Homo sapiens: one gene and its partner. The protein of the gene in region 1 purifies or fractionates together with the protein of each later gene. This does not show direct contact. Each region holds a gene or a part of one and is shown in the gene's direction. Other genes may lie near its edges.

Region 1 (7,349 bases):
ATGCAGTAGCATGATCATAGCTTACTGCAGCCTCAAATTCCTGGCCTCAAGTAGTCCTCCCACCTCAGCCTCTAGAGTATCTGGGACTACAGGCATGTGCCACCACACCCAGGTAATTTTTTAAATTCTTTTAGAGTCAGGGGTCTCGCCATGTTGCCCAGGCTGGTCTTGAACTCTTGGCCTCAAGGGATCCTCTCACCTCAGCCTCCTGAGTAGCTGGGATTACAGGCACGAGCCACCATGCCCAGCCAGTTTTTAATATTTTTTAAATGGAGAAAGGGGCCCATGAAGGCAAAAGTACTCAGTGACCAAGTCCAGTCTCAAGCTTTCTCATAAGAACCAGATAACAACAATAATAATAGTAATAGCAAACATTTAGACCGTCCTTGCCATATGCCAGGCACTTCTTCCAACAGCCCTAGGAGGGAGGTACCATTTTCTTTCTTTTTCTTTTTATTTTTTTGAGACGGAGTCTTGCTCAGTCACCCAGGCTGGAGTGCAATGGCACGACCTCGGCTCACTGCAACCTCCGCCTCCCGGGTTCAGGCAATTCTCCTGCCTCAGCCTCCCGAGTAGCTGGGATTATAGGCACCCACCATCATGCCCGGCTAATTTTTGTATTTTTGTACAGACAGGGTTTCACCATGTTGGCCAGGCTGGTCTTGAACTCCCGACCTCAGGTGATCTGCCCACCTCAGCCTCCCAGAGTGCTGGGATTACAGGCATGAGCCACCGTGCCCGGCCAAAGGTACCGTTTTCACTCTCACTTTATAAACGAGGAAGCACAGAGAGGTTGCGTCACAAGCATAAGGCCATAGAGCTATGAAGCAATAGTGGTGGGTTTAGTTCAACCCTAAGCAAAGCACTCAACATCCTGTCTTCAGCATCTGAAACAGATTAAGGGCGACCTCGGTTTTCTCCAGGGACAATTGTTTGGTGCTGCCTTACATAAAAGGTCCCTCCCTGTAGATGTCTCAAAACAAGCAAGTTTCCCTATAGCTGAGCAGCCAGCAACCTCCCTCCAAAAAGGTCAGTTTCTCTGTGAACCTTCAAAGAGCTGACAATAACTCTCTTCACCTGGGACCTCATCATCAATCCATTTGGCTATTTCTATGTTTGTGTACATGTTTGAATGGGTGGCCCATGGCTCTGCTTGGCTCTACACATAACCGAATGCTTTATATGTATTATATCATTGGTGTGTGCATATTTGTGGACGTGGAGGAGCGTGTGTGTGCATGTGTGTGTGTGCGTGTGTGCATGTGTGCATATGTGTGTGTATGTTTGTGTGTGCATGTGTGCGCGTGGGTGTGTGCATTGTGTGCATGTGTGTGTGCGTGTGTGTCCATGTGTTTGTGTGCGTGTGTGCATGTGTGCATGTGTGTGCATGTGTGTGTGCATGTGTGTGTGCGTGTGTGTGTATGTGCGTGTGTGCGTCGCCTGTCCACGTATACTTGTGAATCCATGGGCATGTATACACAGCTGAGATGCGTGCTAACAAGTTGCTGTATCTCTGAGTATAAATTGATGAGCTCCTACAAGGAGACGCCCAGTTAATTCATTTTCCCAAGTTGATCAAGGGACATGAGAGAAACTGAGGCTCAAAGAGGTTGCTCAGGGTCTGGGTCATCCATTCTGTCACTGAGATGGAAACCAGGTGTCCTGTCTCCCCGCTTCAGACCCTGCTAATTTCCAAGACCTATCACCTAGCTCAAGCCATATCTCTGCTTATGTTCCCAGTTTCCAGGCTAGAATGACCCTTTGCAAGGCTTGGCAACCAAAAGCCCTGGGTCTGAAGCAGACTGGCCAGTAGCCACTGATAAACCTGTATCATGCACAACCAACCTCCAAAATGAAACAGAAAATTCCCCGCAGGCTGAAGTCCCCAGACACCCCAGGACTGAGGCCTTGATGTCACCATAGCTGAGCAGAGCCCCCAGTGCACATTCCCACTTTTATCTTTCTTAAAAAATTAAACCTATTGATTTTTATACTACCAAGGTAACTATGTTTGTTTTAAAAAAGAATTTAAGCTGCATAAAAATGTGTAGTTAGAGGCCAGGCATGGTGGCTCACACCTGTAATCCTAGCACTTTGGGAGGCCTATGTGAGTGGATCACTTGAGGTCAGGAGTTCGAGACCAGCCTGGCCAACGTGGTGAAACCCCGTCTCTACAAAAGGAACAAAAATTAGCCAGTGGCACTGGTCCCGGCTACTCAGGAGACTAAGTAAGGTAGGAGAATTGCTTGAACCTGGGAGGCAGAGGTTGCAGTGAGCCAAGATCGCACCACTGCACTCCAGCCTGGGCGACAGAGCGAGACTCCAACTCCATCTCAAAAAATAAATAAATAAATAAACAAACCAGCCTGGCCAACATGGTGAAATCCGGTCTCCACTAAAAATACAAAAATTAGCCGGGCATGGTGGTGGACATCTATAATCCCAGCTACTCGCGAGGCTGAGGAAGCAGAATTGCTTGAACCCAGGGGTGGAGGTTGCAGTGAGCTGAGATCGCACCACTGCACTCCAGCCTGGGCCACAGAGCAAGACTCTCAAAAAAAAAAAGTGTAAGTTAGAATCCTCCTTCACCCCCAGATCACCGCTATGAATGGCGGGGTGCGTAGTGCTCTGAACTTTTCTATCAGGAAGGAATTCCTAAGGTGGCCAGTAGGCCCAGCTCAGAAAATGACCTTCAAGGGGAGCTCAGTATGAGTAGAGGGGAAACGAAAGACAGAATCTAACCAACCAGGCTGAGGCCAGGCCTTGGGGCGAATGGATCAAACCACATGTTCCAAGGGATGGCCAACCCCGAATGCCGGAGGCTCTGGTAGAATTTCTGCTACTCAGTGCTTTGGGCCCTCAGATCTGCCACTGACCTTGACATTCAAGTTACAGAATTGTAGAACTGAAAGGAGCCTGAAAGTCCATCTGGTCCTTTTGCCCATTTTAGAGATGGGGAAACTGAGGACCTACAACTAAGCTGACTCCAGGAAGGAATCTGGCCAACTAAGCACCTTCCAGAGCCTGCTGCATCCCTGCCTCCAACCACAGCCCTGGAGGCAGGTGCAGGAGTGCATCAAGCCCAGGCAATTAGAAAGATGAGACAGAGAGAGAGCCAGGAAGCGATCCAATAGCACTAGAAAGGCAGAGAAGGAGCAGCATGTCTCCACAGCTTGAAGCCCCAGGCTGGTGTTAGAAGCTTTGGCTTCAAAGTCTGGCTCTGCTGCTGCCCAGCCGTGTGACCCTAGATGGTCACTTACCCGCTGAGTCTCAGCTTCCTCACTTTTATTTTATTTTTTTAGAGACAAGGTCTTGTTCTGTCACCCGCGCTGGAATGCAGTGTGGCACGATCACGGCTCACTGCAGCCTCGAACTCCTGGGCTCAAGCGATCCTCCTACCTTGGCCTCAGGAGTAGCTGGGACTACAGGCATGCACCACTGCGCCTGGTCCTTTCTCATCTCACCTCAGAGCAGATAACCGCGTCTATTTCATGTTGTTGGAAGAATTAAGTGAGATAATGCAAGAAGAATTGAGCGCAATGCCTGACACACAGTAGGTGCCCAATAAATAACTAAAAAGAATAAGGTAACGGCCTGTAATCACACCTGTAATCCTAGCACTTTGGGAGGCTGAGGTAGGCAGATTGCCTAAGCTCAGGAGTTCAAGACCACCCTAGGCAACAGGGTGAAACCCTGTCTCTACTAAAATACAAAAAAAAAAAAAAAAAAAAAATGGTGGCACACATCTGTAGTCCCAGCTACTTGGGAGGCTGAGACAGGAGAATCGCTTGAACTCGGGAGGCGGAGGTTGTAGTGAGCTGAGACTCCAGCCTGGGTGACAGAGCAAGATCCTGTCTCAAAAAAATAAATAAAATACAAAAGATTAACCTGGCGTGGTGGCAGGCGCCTGTAGTCCCAGCTACACAGGGGGCTAAGGCACGAGAATCGTTTGAGCCCGGGAGGTGGAGGTTGCAGTGAGCTGAGACTGTGCCACTGCATTTCAGCCTGGGCAACAGAGCAAGACTCCATCTCCAAATAAATAAATAAATAGTATAAGGTAGGGAGAGAGAATGAACACACACGTCAAACAGAGTGGGGTGGGGGATGCCAAAAAGCACTGCAACTCAGAATTTTCTGTTTCAGGATATTTGGAAAATCCATACTTCTAAGAAAGCCCTGTCTCCTGCCCAAATTAAACAGTAACCACCCAAGGTCAGGGAAAGGGCCTTATCAGAGCAGGTTTCTCTCCAAGGGGCGGTTTGGCCTTGACCAGGTGCACTCACCTGCTCCTGCCTATAAGTGTGCCCCAGCCCATCCCGATGGTCAGCCAGTCCTGAGCACCTAACCATGTTGGGCATCACTGTCCTCGCTGCGCTCTTGGCCTGTGGTAAGCGGTGGGGTGGGGCTGCAGCTAGCAGGCTGTGAGCTCGGGCTGGCCTCCAGGGCAAGGACGGGATGGGGAGTGGGGGGGCCTCTGCTCTCCAGGTAAGACACTTTGGGGTCCCCTGTGGGTTCAGATGCTACCAACCAGCTGTGTGTCAGACAAGCCACAGCCTGCCTGCCAACTCTGTTTCCACATCTGCAAAACAGGGAAGATGATCTGACGTGTCCCCAGTTAGAAATGAGGTGTGGAAAGCACCACGCAAGGGGGAGGGACACGAGATGCCTCATCCTGGGTTCACCCCAGGGACCATCGGGGTCTGCCTTTCCCAGCATTCTCTCTCCCTTGAGGATTCTCCATTCCATCATTTTGGTGGCGTTTTCCCAGATTAGGAGCCCAGGGACTTAGCTTAAATGCCACTTCTTCTCTGCAGGACCTGGAAAAGTCATTTCACCTCTCTAAATCTCACTAACTTTTTTGGCAAAGGAGAGCACTTAATGAAGAGTCCTTCCAGCTAACAACAACAACAGTAATAATAGCAGCTCCTGTTTCCTGTGTGTTTACTATGTGCCAGACGCTATGCTAGGCCCCTTACATGTAGGAGCCAATTTAATCCTCAAAACAACCTTAAGAGGTAGGGTCTATTGCCAGGCATGGTGGCTCACGCCTGTAATCCCAGCACTTTGGGAGGCCGAGGTGGGTGGATCACTTGAGATCAGGAGTTTGAGACCAGTCTGGCCAACAAGATGAAACCCCGTTTCTACTAAAAATACAAAAATTAGCCAGGCGTGGTGGCGGGCACCTGTAATCCCAACTACTCAGAAGGCTGAGGCAGGAGAATTGCTTGAACCCAGGAGGAGGTTGCAGTGAGCCGAGATCGCGCCATCAAACTCCAGCCTGGGCAACAAGAGTGAAACTCCGTCTCAAAAAAAAAAAAAAAAGAAAAAGAAAGAAAAAGAGGTAGGGTCTTTTCATAGCCCCATTTTACAGATGAGGACATCGAGGTTCCGTGCGACTTAGTATCTTGCCTGACATCACATGGCAGGTTAGTGGAAGAGGCAGAATTTGAGTCCACGTCTGTCTCGCGGAACAGCACGTGTTCTTGACCGCTCCACACAGCTTCCCAGCTATAACAGTGGATTTACTGCTCTCTCACACACACACCATGATGCAGGGGCCTAAAAACAGACAGAAGAACACAGGTGTACCGGGCACTCGCACACATGCCAGCCAGTTTTGTTTTGTTTTGTTTTGTTTTTTGAGATGGAGTTTTGCTCTTATCACCCAGGATGGAGTGCAATGGCACGATCTCGGCTCACTGCAACCTCCATCTCCCAGGCTCAAGCGATTCTCCTGCCTCAGCCTCCTGAGTGGCTGGGATTACAGGCATGCACCACCACGCCTGGCTAATTTCTGTATTTTTAGTAGAGACAGGGTTTCGCCATGTTGGCCAGGCTGGTGTCAAACCCCTGATCTCAAGCGATCCACCCGCCTTGGCCACCCAAAGTGCTGGGATTACAGGTGTGAGCCACCGTGCCCGGCCAAACGCTTTCTTTTTTATGTGTTGTCTAATTCAGTTCTCAGGGCAAACTCACCGCATTAGTGTGATTCTTCACATTTCACAGAAAGGGAAAACAAGGCCTAGAGACCTGGGTGGCTTACCCCCGTGACACAGTAAAATATCAACCCCGTGTCTGCCCAGCCCCAACTCTGTGCTTCTTCCACCTGCCCACCCTCCCACCCCTTTCCCCGTGGGCTACCAGCCCTATTCACTGGTTCTTCTGGCCTCCTGTCTCCCCAGCCTCCAGCTGTGGGGTGCCCAGCTTCCCGCCCAACCTATCCGCCCGAGTGGTGGGAGGAGAGGATGCCCGGCCCCACAGCTGGCCCTGGCAGGTAAGCCTGTGTAGGGCTGGGAGGTACAGATAGAGAGGGTGGCGGGGTGAGGGTCCCAGGGACCTGCAGGCTGACACACAGCCCTCCCCACCCTCCTGCAGATCTCCCTCCAGTACCTCAAGAACGACACGTGGAGGCATACGTGTGGCGGGACTTTGATTGCTAGCAACTTCGTCCTCACTGCCGCCCACTGCATCAGGTGTGCGGGGATGATACCCTGAGACCTGGCCATCGTCCGGGGGCGGAAGCCTGATACTCTGCTTTTTCTGAGCAGCTTCTCCGCACTCCAGGCACTGGGCTACATAATCTACTCACACCCAGTAACTCAGTTGTGCATTTAGTCAGTCAAGTATTCATTGTGCATCTATTATGTGCCAGGAACCAGCAGTGAAGACAAAGTCTGTGCTCTCGGGAAGCTTATATTTTTGTGGAAGACAGAGCGGCAGACAATTAAACAAATATATAGCATCTCAGGTGATTTAAAATAATACTAATAATAAGGTATTGGCCAGGAGCAGTGGCTCACGCCTGTAATCATAGCACTCTGGGAGGCCGACGCAGGCGGATCACCTGAGGTCAGGAGTTCGAGACCAGCCTGGTCAACATAGTGAAACCCCGTCTCTACCGAAAATACAAAAATTAGCCAGGCGTGGTGGCGGGCACCTGTAATCCCAGCTACTCGGGAGGCTGAGGTAGGAGAATCACTTGAACACGGGAGGCAGAGGTTGCAATGAGCCGAGATGGCGCCACTGCACTCTAGCCTGGGCAACAGAGTGAGACTCTGTCTCAAAAAAATAAAAAATAAAAATAAGGTCAGAAGAGGACAAACAGAATGAGGGGTTCAGTTTTAAAAGGGATGGCCAGGGGAAGAGCTGAAAGGGGGATATTTGGCAAATATTTGGGACATTTCGGAGAGCTAAAAGGGGGTTATTTGGGCAAAGGCCTGAAGGAAGTGAGGGAGGAAATCATGGATCTAGGAGAAGGGTGTTCCAGGCGGAGGGAACAGCCATGCAAAGCCTTGGAGGAGAGACCTGTCAGTATGGTTGAGAAATAACGCGGAAGCCGGTGTGGCAGG
Region 2 (7,191 bases), on another chromosome or scaffold:
AGAATGAACTACGTCATGGAGAAATTGGACGGCTCATACATTGTTAGTGGGAATGTAAAATGGTACAGCCACTTTGGAAAAGTCTGGCAATTCCTCAGAAGGTTAAACAAGACCAGGAGTGGTGGCTCACACCTATAATCCCAGCACTTTGGGAGGCCAAGTCAGGAGGATCACTTGAGGCCAGGAGTTCGGGACCAGCCTGGGCAACATAGTGAGACTTCATCTTTACAAAAAAATAATAAAATGACCTGGACGTGGTAGCAGCTTGTGATCCTGCAGGCTGAGGTAGGAGGATTTCTCAAGCCCAGGAGGTTGAGGCTGCAGTGAGCTGTGATCATGCCACTGCACTCCAGCAATCCAGCCTGGGTAGCAGGGCAAGATCCTGTTTTTTTTTTTTTTTTAAACCCAAACCCAAAAGGTTAGAATTTCCATATGACCCAGCAATCCCACTTCTAGTATATATGAAGACAAATGAAAACATGTGCAAACAAAAACTTGTACATGGATGTTCATATCAACATTATTCATCAAACCCAAAAAGTGGAGCCAAGTGTCCTGCACGTGTGAAGTAGATAACATTTTGACTTGTGCCTTTCCTACTCCAAGAGCCTCAGGCAGCATCACTGTCTGAGGGCTTTCAGAATGCCTTATGCATAGGCATATATTCCTACACCACATGACATCTGACCGGGGACCCACTTCACAGTGAAGGAGGTGCAGGGGTAGGCCATGATCACAGAATCCAGTGGTTTTATCCCTTACAATACGAACCCAAAGCAGCTGGCCTCATAAAGGGTGAAAATGGCTTACTGAAAGCACAGCTGAAACGCCAGCTTGGATGCAATTTCCTGCAAAGATGGGGCCATCTATAAGGATGCAGTATACGCCCTCAATTAGAGATGTCAGACTTGTTCCCACGTAGGAAGAATATATAGGTTCCACCAAGAGGTGGAAGTAGAAGTAGCCCCACTTACTATTACTCCTACTGACTTACTGGGATTTTGTTCTCCCATCCCTGCAACTCTGAGCTCTGCAGAGCTGCAGGTCCTGATCCACAAAGGGATGCTGTCTTTCTGTGGACACAACCAGGGTCCCATTGAACTACAAGCCATGGCTACCATCAGGGCACTTTGCATTCCCTGTGTTCAGGAACCAGAAAGCAAGAGAAGCCTCTAACCTGGAGGGAAAATTGATGCTGCTCAGCAGGAAGAGTGTCAGATGTCTTCTCAAAACTGCAGTGGCACCAACTTTCACAGTAAAAGCTTACCAGAACATCCATGACTTGGCCCAATGTTACCTTTCTGTTCTCCTTTCATCCATGACTTGGCCCAATGTTACCTTTCTCATCTCCTTTCCTTTCTTCTCTCCCCCTTGCTCACTCCACTGTAGCCATGCTGAACTCTTTGATGTTCAGTGAGCAGACAAGCTGCTTTCAGGACTGGGGTCTTTCATCCTCCCAGCTTCATGAGATAGAAGGAGCAAGAAAGGCTACAAAATGCAGAAGGAGCTCACACGTGAGACGGAGGGTGAGAGATATTTTATATAATTACACTAATTCGTACGAGCTGATGGCTGAGTTGGACTTTTTACCTCTTAATTTTTAGAACAAGCCTCCTCACTGACAGGAGCAAAATATTAGAGTGGAAAATATTGATGAGAAATCTCTCATCGATCTCATACTCATTGATTATTGACTAAAAAGTTAGCCTGAGACAAAAGAATGATCGTCCTGGAGAACCAACAAAGTTCCATCTTTCATAATGATTAGTAATAGCAAAGTTATTTTTGAGATATGTTAAATGTCAGGTACCAGGCTACACCTTTTATATACTTTGTGTTATTTAATCCCCATAAAATCTATAAGAAAAAGGAATTATTATTCCCATTTCACACACGAAGAAATAGAGGCTCAGAAAGCTGAAATAATTTGCCTAGGTCATACTTCATGTAAAGTGGCCAGCTTTAACCACAGCTCTTTGTGAGTCTAAGACCTATATTATTTTCTCCACAATTTGATTCCCCTTAAGAGAAAGAGATAATCGTTACTTCATTTGTTCATTCACTTATCCATAATTTAATAAATGTTCACTGAGTGATCATGTGCAGGCTTGGCCTGATTTTGCTGATACAGTGGCAAACGAATAGGCTCCTGCCTTACCTTCATGGAGGTTATAGCCTAATGGTATAGCTGGACCAGGAATCAAAGAAGTTCAGGTCTCTGAAGCGCAGCTGACACAGCATGTGCTGAGACTGATATTTGAAGGAGGCGAACAAAGATTACCGTTGACCTAGACCTTGACTATATATTATGCACAGTAAATACATACAACCTTGGTTAAGGCATTGACCTTTTAGCTTCATCAATTTTGAAATGAGTATAGTAATAATACATTTCTTGCCAAGTGGTTGTAATCTCAAATGAGAAAATGTGTGAAAGGCCTTGGCAAACTGTAAAATAGTCAACAAGGAGAAAAGGCCTTTTTTTTTTTTTTGAGAGATGGTCTCACTTTGTCACCCAGGCTGGAGTGCAGTGGCACAATCATGGCTCACTGCAGCCTCTGCCTACCAGGCTCAAGTGATCCTCCTGCCTCAGCCTCCGAAGTAGCCAGGACCACCGGTGTGCGTCACCATGGCCAGTTAATTTTCTTAATTTTTTGTAGAGACAAGGTCTTGCTGTGTTGCCCAGGCTGGTCTCAAGCTCCTGGCCTCTAGCGATTCTCCTGCCTCGGCCTCCTAAAGTGCTGGGATTACAGGCTTGAGACACGGTGCCTGGCTGGTCTTTTCTTTATGCTAAAAAAATTCAAACAGATGCTACATTAGAATAGTGCAATAAACACCCAGATGCCCATCAACCAGCTATGACAGTTATCAACTCATGGCCAATCATGCTTCATCTTTAGCCAGACCCTGATTACCCATTTTTTGGGAAGCAAATCTTTGACTGCCTATATTTTTATCCATATATATATATGTGTGTGTGTGTGTGTGTGTGTGTGTATACCTCAGTGAGTGTGTGTGTACCTCAGTGAGGGGATTCTTTTAAAAAATATAGCCACAAATACCATTATTACTCCTAAAAGCCTAAAAACAAAATTTACAGCAATTCCTTAATTTTATCAAATATTATAATTTGACTTAGTGGTTAAATTTCCCTGATTATCTCAAAAATTTTGAACTCAGTAGGTTTGAATTAGTATTTAGATAAGGTTCACATATTGCAGCTGGCTGCTATGTTTTTTTTTTTTTTTTTTTTTTCAGATGGAGTCTTGCTCTGTCCCCAGGCTGGAGTGCGGTGGCGCCATCTCGGCTCACTGCAAGCTCCACCTCCCGGATTCATGCCATTCTCCTGCCTCAGCCTCCCGAGTAGCTGGGACTACAGGCGCGTGCCACCACGCCGGGCTAATTTTTTGTATTTTTTAGTAGAGATGGGGTTTCACCGTGTTAGCCAGGATGGTCTCGATCTCCTGACCTCGTGATCCACCCGCCTCGGCCTCCCAAAGTGCTGGGATTACAGGCTTGAGCCACCGCGCCCGGCCTGCTATGTTGTTTTTTAATCTGTAAGTTTCTCCTTCATCTTCTTTTTGTTTTGGTTTTGCATTTTGTTCGATTACGGAACTGTAGAACAGTGGTTCTTAAACTTAAGTGTGGATTAGAATCATCTGGAGAGCTTGTGAAACCCTGGATTGCTGTGTCCAGTCCCCACGGATTCTGATTCCGTATTGTATTTCTCTTTTTTTTTTGAGACGGAGTCTTGCTCTGTCGCCGAGGCTGGAGTGCAGTGGCGGGATCTGGGCTCACTGAAACCTCCGCCTCCCAGGTTCAAACGATTCTCCTGCCTTGGCCTCCCGACTAGCTGGGACTACAAGCGCGCCATTACTGGGTCTTTGTGAGGATTAAATGAGATTTTAAAAAGTGAAGTGCTTAGCATAGTACTCTGGCACTTACCAAATGCCCAGCAAATTTGACTGTTATTTTTCAACCAAGAAATCATAAAGGGGTGCACGGTCTGTGGAAGGCCTTGAGTTTTGTGGAGTTTTGTGTTTTGCTGCGTTTTGACGTTAGCACAGGCAAGCAGCAGCGCCAAAGAAGTACCTGAAGAAAGGTGAAGAGCAACTCTCCTGGTCACTTCGTAAGTCAGCTCAAAATTCTGCCCCTTTAAGGAGGGCTCAGCCACGTGACCAACCGGGTCACATGGCCCGCGGGACAACATGGCTGCGCCCGCACTAGGGCTGGTGTGTGGACGTTGCCCTGAGCTGGGTCTCGTCCTCTTGCTGCTGCTGCTCTCGCTGCTGTGTGGAGCGGCAGGGAGCCAGGAGGCCGGGACCGGTGCGGGCGCGGGGTCCCTTGCGGGTTCTTGCGGCTGCGGCACGCCCCAGCGGCCTGGCGCCCATGGCAGTTCGGCAGCCGCTCACCGATACTCGCGGGAGGCTAACGCTCCGGGCCCCGTACCCGGAGAGCGGCAACTCGCGCACTCAAAGGTGCTCCATCGATTCCTCCGAGGCGGGTGGGGGCTGCTCGGTTCCTGGACGGGGTTGGAGTAGGCAAAGCAAGGCACTAGTAGGAAGGGAAGTAAAGGTTATAACCACACCCCAAATCGAGCACCTGCTGTTCCCGTATGAGGAGTTCCTTCTCCGTGCCTCACCGGAAGACTCCATTTAATTGACCATTAGGGAGTTTGGTTTGAGGGTTATTGTTACTTCTTTACCCCCTATTTCTTTCTCCCTCCAACCTGTTCTCTTAATGAGGATCTCATAATTTTAAGGCAATCAAATTATGGTTTAAATCACCATTTCCTCTCTTATTAACGGAATAAATTAGGATCCTGGGTCTCAGTATCTTCACCAGGGTTGTTGTATACTTATCTGTAGTCTCCTCGAGTACACTCTGCTTGAGGACAAGGGCTTGAATTGTTTATCCTGCTATTCTTAGCACTTTAGCACTTAGGAAGGGCTAAGCAAACTGTAGTTGTTTTATTGCTATTATTTATCTGTCTTGCTTAGCGCCTGTATGTGTTAGGTGCCGGGATATATAAATAACTTACTGGCCGGGCGCGGTGGCTCACATGCCTGTAATCCCAGCACTTTGGGAGGCCGAAGCGCGCGGATCACGAGGTCAGGAGTTCGAGACCAGCCTGGCCAACATGGCGAAACCCCGTCTCTACTAAAAATACAAAAATTAGCCGGGCGTGGTGGCGGGCGCCTGTAATCCCAGCTACTCGGGAGGCTGAGGCAGGAGAATTGCTGGAACCCGGGAGGCGGAGGTTGCAGTGAGCCGAGATCTTGCCACTGCACTCCAGCCTGGGCGACAGGGCGAGACTCCGTCTCGAAAAAAAAAAAGAAAGAAAGAAATAACTGTTACTTCAATCTGTCTGCCCGGTATTTTGCATATTGATGTGTTGTCGAAACAACTTATGGGTCTAAAGGTCAGGTCTTCTGACTCCTAAACTAGTGCTCCTTCTTGTTTACTTAGCAGACACTATCCTTTTCCCATTCCATTTTTCTTTCCTTTGGGTTAATCCTGACCAATATTTAGGACTTAGGTGAGAGGTAACATCCACAGTAGGTTTTACCTGATCTCCTCTTTCTCTCCCCTTCAATATTTCCGTATCCTGCCTCAGTAGTTATGTGTTTATTCTGACATAACAATTATTAAAGATGTTTTTCTGCTGATGTCTCTCCCCAACTGGACTGTGAGGGTGATGGGGTCAGGACCATGATTTAGTCTCTCAGGTGTAGAGTGTAGGAGGTTGATACCTGGGCTTCTCATTGTTTTTCCATCCTGTATAATTTTTGGCCTTTACTTTTTTTCCTGTTACCCTTAGAGCATGTCCTGCAGTACTGTTTATCTTTTGTGTGTTGAAGACTCCTGATTACTGTTTTAGTGTGTATTGGCCATACTTGATATTAATTCCTCTCTAACTTGCCTGGTAATTGATAATCAATCTCTCTTTCTTTTTTCTTTTCTTTTTTTTTTTTTTAGACGGAGTCTCGCTCTGTCACCAGGCTGGAGTGCAGTGGCGCGATCTCCGCTCACTGCAATCTCCACCTCCTGGGTTCGAATGATTCTCCTTCCTGCCTCAGCCTCCCAAGTAGCTGGGATTACAGGCACACGCCACCATACCCAGCTAATTTTTGTATTTTTAATAGAGATGGGGTTTCACCATGTTGGCCCGGATGGTCTCAATCTCCTGACCTTGTGATCCGCTTGCCTTGGCCTCCCAGCGTGCTGGGATTACAAACGTGAGCCACCGCGCCAAGCCAGTCTGTCCCTCTTTCTAAGGAGAAATCCTTACATCTGTTTATCTATTTTTTAATAGGGCAGCCATCTCATTTGCATATATACATTGGTCTGTCTCAAAATTTTATCTAGATTCCTCTGGCAAGCATTGAACATTTTTCATTTTTAAACATTCTATTTTCCTCTGGGTTCCAGAATGGGATGTGGATGTTAGAATCTTTTGGATTACATTTACAAGATGTACATTTTTCATCCCTATAGAGTGGTTTTGTGTCTTGACTGGATGCTATATGGGCCATCTTTGGCCAGTTCTTATAGTCTGCTTTCTACAATGCTTAGGGGCATCTCAATTTATTAACAAATTAGTGGTTGATGAGAATATACCTTCAAGCCTTCAAGGGCTGAACTTAATGACTGAAACTGAAGCAGTCTTGTTATCAAGACAATGACGTCATAGGAGGCTGTTCTTAATCTCTCTATTTTCCTTGGTTTCAAATGTTTTAGTTCATGTGCAGATGACTTTGGTCTAATTCTGACACTTTACCATTTATTCTAAATTCAGGAACTCCAATATTTCAGGAGAAGTAAATGAGCATAGTGGTGTTTCTGCCTTTTTTCCCCTCTTTGTTTTCTGTTTATTTGGTTTAATTAAACAAATGTTTATTTGGCACATTACTATATAACACTTGTTATGTAAGATTCATCCTATGTGCTGGGCATACAGAAAAAGACCCATACACTACCCACATGGCATTTACACTCTGGTAGGTGTTTCTCTCTCTCTCACACACACACACACACACAAACACACACAGACACACACATAAGTATCATTTTTCTATAGTGAGAATACTATAGGAGGGATATGTCCAGAGTACCTGGAGAGGAAGAAAGAATTAATTCTTCATGGACAAGTCGAGTAGTGCCTCAAAAAAAAAAAGGCCACATTTGAGC

The links. Proteins that work in one complex are often made in the same cells at the same time.
Region 2: the proteins of CTRC (region 1) and SUMF1 purify together in Homo sapiens (affinity purification with mass spectrometry; 3 studies listed by BioGRID and IntAct, with this or other methods). This does not show direct contact.

What each region holds. Positions count from the first base shown.
Region 1 is NC_000001.11:15,434,118-15,441,466, forward strand, and holds the start of CTRC (chymotrypsin-C preproprotein), read left to right. Parts: upstream 1-4,325; 5' UTR 4,326-4,347; coding exon 4,348-4,387; intron 4,388-6,182; coding exon 6,183-6,274; intron 6,275-6,375; coding exon 6,376-6,473; intron 6,474-7,349.
Region 2 is NC_000003.12:4,464,263-4,471,453, reverse strand, and holds the start of SUMF1 (formylglycine-generating enzyme isoform 1 precursor), read left to right. Parts: upstream 1-4,184; 5' UTR 4,185-4,208; coding exon 4,209-4,478; exon of another isoform or gene 4,479-4,630; intron 4,631-7,191.